Homo sapiens: one gene and its partner. The protein of the gene in region 2 purifies or fractionates together with the protein of the main gene of each other region. This does not show direct contact. Each region holds a gene or a part of one and is shown on either strand. Other genes may lie near its edges.

Region 1 (3,744 bases), on a different chromosome or scaffold from region 2:
CACCTGGAGATGACGCTGGCCATGCCGTGCTCACAGTCACTGGTGCTATAGATGCTCAGCCGGGCCAGGAGGTCCAGCAGGTGGGCTGAGAAGTTCTTGTCAAACTTGTTGATGGTGGCCTCGAAGCCGGACACCAGCTGCACAGTGTCTGCGTGCTCAGCCAGGTGCTGGAAAGAAAGCCGGGGTGCGTGAGCCATGCCCACCCCCACCGTGGGCCTTCTTGGCTCCACACTGTTCCCAGCAGGCCGGTGTCCTTTCCCTTCCCCTTTTCTTAAATAGAAAACATGGGTTCCATGATGTTTTCAGGAGATTCAAGGTAAAAAAGACATCAAAAAACATTCCTGAGAACCCAGCACTCAGAGAAACACTCCAGGCCTCGTGGGATGAGGTGGTCACTCTCCTTTGGGGTGAGATGAACGAGCTTTCCCAGCAGCTTTCTCAGCAAGGAGGTCGGGGCGCCTCTCAGTGTCCCTCACCTCCGGCCCCCACGCTTCCAAACCCAACTCCTCTCTGCCAGCTCCAGCTCCAGCGTGTGAACACGGGACTGCCCACCCCACCATGCCACCCCGGAGCCGGCGCCGCAGGGCCATGCCTCCGAGGACATGCAGCCTGTCCGTGCCTGCTGAGAGCCTGACGGTTCTAACTCAGGACCGAGCTCAGCAGGGACAGCGGGTGTGGCCCCTGCCCTCGCCCAGGCGCCCTGCACAGCGCTCGCTCTGAAGATCTGTGGGGGTTCCCTCGAGCCCGACTGGCTGAAGTGGGGACCAGAGAGCTGAGAAGATTGTGAGAGGCTCTTGTGCTTGTGCTTGGAAGCTAATTTTAAGTCTTTTCTTCAATCTGAGGGGAGATGGAAGTAAAAGGGGGGAGGTTTGTTCTCCCTGCGTCAGGATGCCCAGGCTGCCGCCCAGCCGGGAGGAAGCGTCTCTCTCTGGCCAAACCTGGAGGCCACGCACCTTCCTGGCGAGCTCCTTCCGGGCCCGCTCCTCGGCCCCTGCGGGCAGCCCCAGGACGGTGCTGTGCTCCAGCGTCTGCCCGCCCAGCTCGCCATCTAATTTCATGCTCTGTGTAAATTTCTAGGGGGGGAGAGTCGCAAGGAAATGCTTCTGTTAGTTACAACCACAATGCTTTGCAGAAAAAACAAGTCCTGCAGGCACGTCACCCTCCGCACCTCTGTTGTAGCCTGCGGCTGGGGGTACACAAGCATCTCTGAGGCTGCAGGGGAAATGACTTATCTGTGCCGACAGAATTCCCAGGTCTACCTTCCACGGTGACCAGCTGATTTTCCTGAGAACAGTTATTTTGGTGTTTCCCTATTTGGGACCCTGAAGTGGCCATGCCCTCCTCCACCTCCCCACTCGCCCTCCTCCGGACCCTCCCCATGGCACTGCCTGGAGAGCCTCATTCTCAGACCCCTGCTTCTGCCACTAGACACGCAGGTTCTGCACCATCGCCAGTCGGCAGCTGCTTGTGACTAGTGCCTGCAGGTCCTTAACGGAATCAAATAGCTCAAGTGCTGAGGAAAAGAGCATGCAAGGGCCATAAGCAAAGGCCCCGGACAGAGACCAGCACCACAGAGGCTGAGGGATGGTTCGGGAGGAACACAGCCCTGCCCACGCTGCCAGGGCAGGGGCTCCAGGAGGGAATCACCCGGCCAGGAAGACCAGGAGTTCTGGAAACACTCAGATCCCAGCGGCTCCTCCACGAACACAAGGGCAGGAAAACGTGAGCAGGCTGCGTGCGGCCACGGTCGGGACATGGTCTGCCCACCCGCGCCTGCCCACCCGATGGTGCTACCCACACCCACGCACCTGCATGCAGTTGGTGAACATGACGCACACAGACATGAGCTTGGAGAAGACCTTCAGCAGCTCGGGGTTGGTGAGCATGCAGTCCTTCAGGCAGGTGTCCAGGAAGCCTGTGTGGTGGCCAAGGACGTCGTCAATGTTGGAGGCCTGCGGGGAACAGGCCAAGCCCCTTCTCAGAAAGACGTGGCTGACAGACGGGCCCTGCATGCGCACGTGCTCAGTTCTGGCTTTGTGCATTCCTGTTTACGCACTTCTACCTCTTAAATGGGCCTTGGGCTTTTAGGGGAAAACTTCCAAACACCACTAAAAAAATGATGGGCACACCCCGAAGGGGTTTCATTTCTTAAGGCAGAAGACAGGAAGGGAGGCTGCGGCAGCTTCTGGAATTTGGTACCAACAGATTCTGCCTTCAGGCCCCTCAGCCTCAGATGCGCAATGTGGGAGAGACAACCTCGGGGCAAAGACGGCTCAGAGTCCCCCTAGGACGGCAGGCAGCAAGGGGTCCCGTGTGTGGCCAGCAGTGTGGGTGCAGCCCCGCCCTGGGGGATCCCTTCCTCTCCCCTTGCCCTGCCTCTCCTGCACTCCGTGTCTCCCTGCACTCCCTGCCTCTCCCGCATTCCCTGCCTCTCCCGCACGCCCTGCCTCTCCCGCACTCCCTGCCTCTCCTGCACTCCCTGCGTCTCCCTGCATTCCCTGCCTCTCCTGCACTCCCTGCCTCTCCCCTCGCCCTGCCTCTCCTGCACTTCCTGTCTCCCTGTGAAAGGAAAGTGGCTTTCAAACGTTATTATCTGTGGAGCTAAAACTCACGGATTTCAGGTTTTTCTCCAGGATGTGCCAGGTCGGTTCCATCACTTCAAACATCATGTAGTATTGAATATTCTGGACGAAGTTGAGCATTCGCTGCCGCAGAGTGAAAGCCCCAGCAAACCTGAGTGACACGGAGGACGGAGGACAGCCATGGAGGACGCGGCCCCGACAGCGCCCACCAAGTGACACGGAGGACGGAGGACAGCCATGGAGGACGTTCTCTGGACGTGGCTATTTCCTCTGCAGAGCAAGCGCCCCTCCCAGCACACCAGACACTCACGGCCGCTGCTCCTGCGTCTGCCCAGCACAAGCTGTCACCGTCTACCAACCTGTGCCCTGCAGGGACACCCCCAGCCAGCTGGACGGTGGAGACTGGGACGCGGGCTCCTTGGTGGACGGACCCCTCGGAGCCCACGCCAGGAAAGTGCCACACAACAGATGCATATTTGTGCTTCATCATCAAGATGAGTTCTTTTTCTTCTAATTTCTTTTTTTCTTCGAGAGACAGGGTCTTGCTGTCGCTCAGACTGCAGTGCAGTGGCACGATCTTGGCTCACTGCAGCCTTGACCTCCTGGACTCAAGCAACCCTCCCACCTCAGCCTCCTGAGTTGCTGGAACTACAGGCATTCCCGGCTAATTAAAATAATTTTCTTTTTTTTTAAGAGATGAGCTCTTGTTACATTGTCCAGGCGGGTCTCGAACTTGTGGGCTCAAACAATCCTCCCTCCTCAGCTTCCCAAAGTGCTGAGATTACAGGCATGAGCCACTGCACCCGACTGGACAAATTCTTATGAAGCTCTGCCATCGACCCCTTTTTTCAACACCCTAGAGGCACAGACCGGCTGCAAAGCACCTCTGGTCCCAGCAAGATGTGGCTGTCCGCTCTCGGGAGGAGCTAGTGTCCTGCACACCGACCTGGGCAGTCTCCATGCCCGTGCAGTCACCACAAGGCTCCAGAGAGGGCTGAGGGACAGAGCCAGCATCCCCTGTGGGGTGGACGGCAGCGCCGTGCAGCCCCAAGACAGGAAAATGAAGCAATGAAGCATTATGGATCTAAAGCCACCAACGTGCGCTTCCAGATGACACTTCCAGAAGCCTAGAAAGCTGTCTACCAGGAGGGCACAAGGGGGG
Region 2 (3,744 bases):
CTGAAAGTGAGGGATTTGTGGCTGCCTCATTCACTCTGGAAGGCTCCTGGGAAGACGAGGGACAAGAGAGACCGGAAGTGTCGGATTCCTGGACCCTGAGGCCCCGCCCCTTCCAGCCCTGGGGAACAAGAGCAGCTAGGACCTGGCCAAGCCTGTCCAGGCCCCCGCTTTAGGCCCTCTGCTCTGTGCTGCTCCCCCGACTCAGGCAGCAGCTCCGCATGGAGACTTGGTGGTACTGACTCCGGAGCCCCCACTCCCCAGCCTTGGTCACCAATCACCACTAACACCAAAACCACTGCCTGCTTAGATGGCCTGAAAAGTTAGGGTCCTGTGGCAACCCCATTTTAGAACTCCGGGGGTCCTCGAGCAGCTTCCTGTCGGGGAGAAGGCCTGCAGAAGTCATGGGAGGCTCCCGGCTCGGGGGTCAGTGTGGTGCACCCTCTCCCCTTCTTTGAGCCCCTCTCAAAGCCTAACTCAAAATGAAATCCCATAGGTTTTTCTTCGCCACAAATATAGTAGTTTTGAAGTAACTGTGACCTTTCAACCAGGTGGGCTTGCCCTGGGCCTCCTAAAACCTGAGCCACCGCAGGACCCCCAGCTCCCTCCCACCTGCACGCCTTACCACAGCTCTCCTGCCCCAGGAGCTTTGGCCGTGCGCCCATGGCCCCGTGTGCTCCCCGCCGCCTCCCCTGGCCCCCGACAGCCCCATGGCGTCTCCTGGGCTTCCCCCACTGTGAGTCCAGGCTCAGCTCCAGCCACTTGTCCATCCCATGTGGGCACAGGGGCTCCCTGGGATTCGACCCGTCCTGCCTTAGGGGCCTCCAACTCCTGGCAAAGGGCAGTGGGCAGGAAATGCCCAGGTTGTCACGTGCAAGCCCAGGAAGAGCCACCTCGGCATGAAAGAAAAACAAGAAACTCAGATCCAGAGGCTCCAACCTGCAGAGCAGCCTGGGTTCCCTCCAAACTGGGCCAGGTTGGGGGAAGCAGGCTGAGGCTGCGAGTAGCCGGGACTCCCTCCGCCAGGACGGGCTTGAGCCTGTCGCGTGCTGTGAAGTGTATTTCTGAGCGGACGCTGGCATTTCAGGTCAGGCTGGAGCCAGGTGTCATGCTCACTGAAACTGTGGCTCACTGCCCCACACTCGGGTTCTGCATGGAGACTTGGTGGTTCTGGGTGTTTCTCCAGAAGGGGCTGGGGAGGAGTCTGGGACTGTGGGACTGGGAGCTGGTGGGCTCTTGGGACGTCTGGGCCTCTCCATGCGGAGTGGGCAGGCGGTAGTGGAAGGAACCTTTGTGTGCTTCATGTGCGTGGGGGGGTGGTGCTGGGAGGGGCAGGGGCCACGGGACCCCAGGGCACACTGGGGCCTCCGCAGGGAGGTGCGCCCCCGCTCACCATTGGTGCAGACCACACCAGCGTCTCTCTCGTGCCTGCAGTTGCTCTTCAGCCAGCCCAGGGACTTGCAGTCGGCCAGTGAGGCCTCGGTTCCCGTGCACTGGACCTCATCCAGCATGATGGGGCCTGATCCTGTGGACACAGCAGATGGCAGGGCTGGGGGCGTGACGACTGCACCCAGGAGTCCCACAGCGCGACTCAGCCCTTTGTTCTCCGCCCCGGCCGTGTGGGTCCATCTGCTTACAGGTCCTTCACCAGCGAACCACGGAGGATATTCCAGCATGGGCTGGATTTGTGATTGCAATGTCAGGCCATAAACTTAGCCTTCATGCTTATAAAGCTTACCGGCTGCTTCAGCGACATCACATTCATGTATAGTAATTGTGTGACTATCCCTGCAACATCAGTTTCACATACTGTAATTGTGTGACTATCCCTGCAACATCAGGTTCACATACTGTAATTGTGTGACTATCCCTGCAACATCAGGTTCACATATTGTAATTGTGTGACTATCCCTGCAACATCAGGTTCACATACTGTAATTGTGTGACTATCCCTGCTGCTAAATAGTTTATGGATTGTTTCTTTTTTTTCCAGAATCGCAACTGCTGTGTCAGTGGAAATCTTCCTGCAGACTTTTCTTTTGAGGAGAAATTGTTTCAATGGGATAAACTCCCTGGAGTGGAGTTTCTGGGCCGGAGGGAACGAGCCCAGCCGAGCTCTTGAACCTGCCCAAGCACCCGCCACCATCACTGGCCAAGTGTGGGTGGAGCAGTCCCATCAGAACTTGATCCGCAGGCCTTCAGCACCATTGAAAATGTTTGCTCATAGGCCGGGTGTGGTAATCCCAGCACTTTGGGAGGCTGAGGCGGGCGGATCACTTGACACCGGAAGTTTAAAAACCAGCCTGGCCAACATGGTGAAACTCTGTCTCTACTAAAAAATACAAAAATCAGCCGGGCATGGTGGCAGGTACCTGTAATCCCAGCTACTCAGAAGGCTGAGACAGGAGAATCACTTGAACTCAGGAGGCGGAGGTTGCAGTGAGCCGAGATTGTGCCACTGCACTCCAGCCTGGGCAACAGAGCGAGACTCCATCTCAAAAAAAAAAAAAAAAAAAAAAAAAAAAAAAAGTGTTTGCTCTTGCTAAATTAATAGGAATCCAATTTGCATGTCTTTGAAACCTGACTGTTTCGTCTTAGGGGATTTGCCCCTCCTGGGAGCTGGCTGTGCTGTGGGTCTCAGCCTCAGTGGAAGGGGACAGCAGGCCCTACCTTGCCCGAAGGCAGCTCTGCCCAGAGCCTGGGTGGCGTTCTCGAAGCCCAGGGCCCGGCAGACGACGCTGGCATCAGTCAGGTCCCACAGGTTGTCACACACAGTGCCCCACTGGCCTCTGTAGAAGATCTCCACGCGGCCCTGGTTGGTGGCGCCCCCATCGGCCAGCCGCATGTCACCATCGTTCACGCCTGCAGGCAGAGACCAGCGAGGGCGAGGCTGGGGCCTGCAGCACCCACCGCCCACACCTCCAGGCCCCATATGCTGTCCTGGGTCTCCCCTGCTGAGCTTGTATTTCAGGGCTTCAAGGTCCCCTGGCCTCTCCATGAGGGGCACCTCCATGAGGGAGGAGTGGAAGATACATACAGCCCCCCCTACCCCGCAAGGAGGCCAAACTCGCCTTTCCTTGTTTTAGGGGTCTCAGCCCTTCACTCCATAGACAGAACAGGGGCAGAGAAGCCCTGAGTTCTCCAGCACTGGGAGTGGAGGTGGCAAGACCCTGAGGGAAGGATAGGAGGGGAACGGAGGCCCCGTGCTGACCCGCCCTGCAGAGGGTGTCTGCAGTTTGGGGGTGCTGGCCTATGGGGGCAGCAGGCCTAGGGACCCCTGGGAGCACAGGCAGAATGTTTCCAGGGCAGATAATGGGATTCCCCCGCCCCACATGTCCTTCTGGGACTCAGTCCACCAACACTCCAGCCCCTACAGGAGCTGACAGAGCCGGGCAGGAGCTGGGTGCCTGAATCCAGTCGGGGGTACATCTGGCTTCCATGGGGCCCCCAGGATGAGCATGAGCTTCCAGGGGCTCACAGTGTAAAGAATGTGAGGAAAAGCAGCCAGGACCCTCTGGAAGACTGACCTGCGTCCAAGGCCACTGACCTCACAACGGCCCCTGTGACTGCTGGTTTGATCAGCCCCTCTGGTTCCCTCTGGACGGAATGGAGGATTCCCTAGTGTCCTCTCTATAACCTGCATCTCACCTGAACCCAGGTGAGCCCCCGGGAACCTCCAAGTCATCATCACTGGGGATACCTGGTGCTTCAAGCAGGAGAGAAGATCTGGCTAACCGCTGGGCCCCG

What was found.
Region 1: the proteins of LGALS3BP (region 2) and TUBGCP2 purify together in Homo sapiens (affinity purification with mass spectrometry; 4 studies listed by BioGRID and IntAct, with this or other methods). This does not show direct contact.

The regions. Positions count from the first base shown.
Region 1 is NC_000010.11:133,281,270-133,285,013, forward strand, and holds part of TUBGCP2 (gamma-tubulin complex component 2), read right to left. Parts: intron 2,734-3,744; coding exon 2,613-2,733; intron 1,953-2,612; coding exon 1,809-1,952; intron 1,074-1,808; coding exon 954-1,073; intron 168-953; coding exon 4-167; intron 1-3. UniProt on the Homo sapiens protein: Component of the gamma-tubulin ring complex (gTuRC) which mediates microtubule nucleation.
Region 2 is NC_000017.11:78,973,298-78,977,041, forward strand, and holds part of LGALS3BP (galectin-3-binding protein precursor), read right to left. Parts: intron 2,860-3,744; coding exon 2,668-2,859; intron 1,523-2,667; coding exon 1,391-1,522; intron 1-1,390.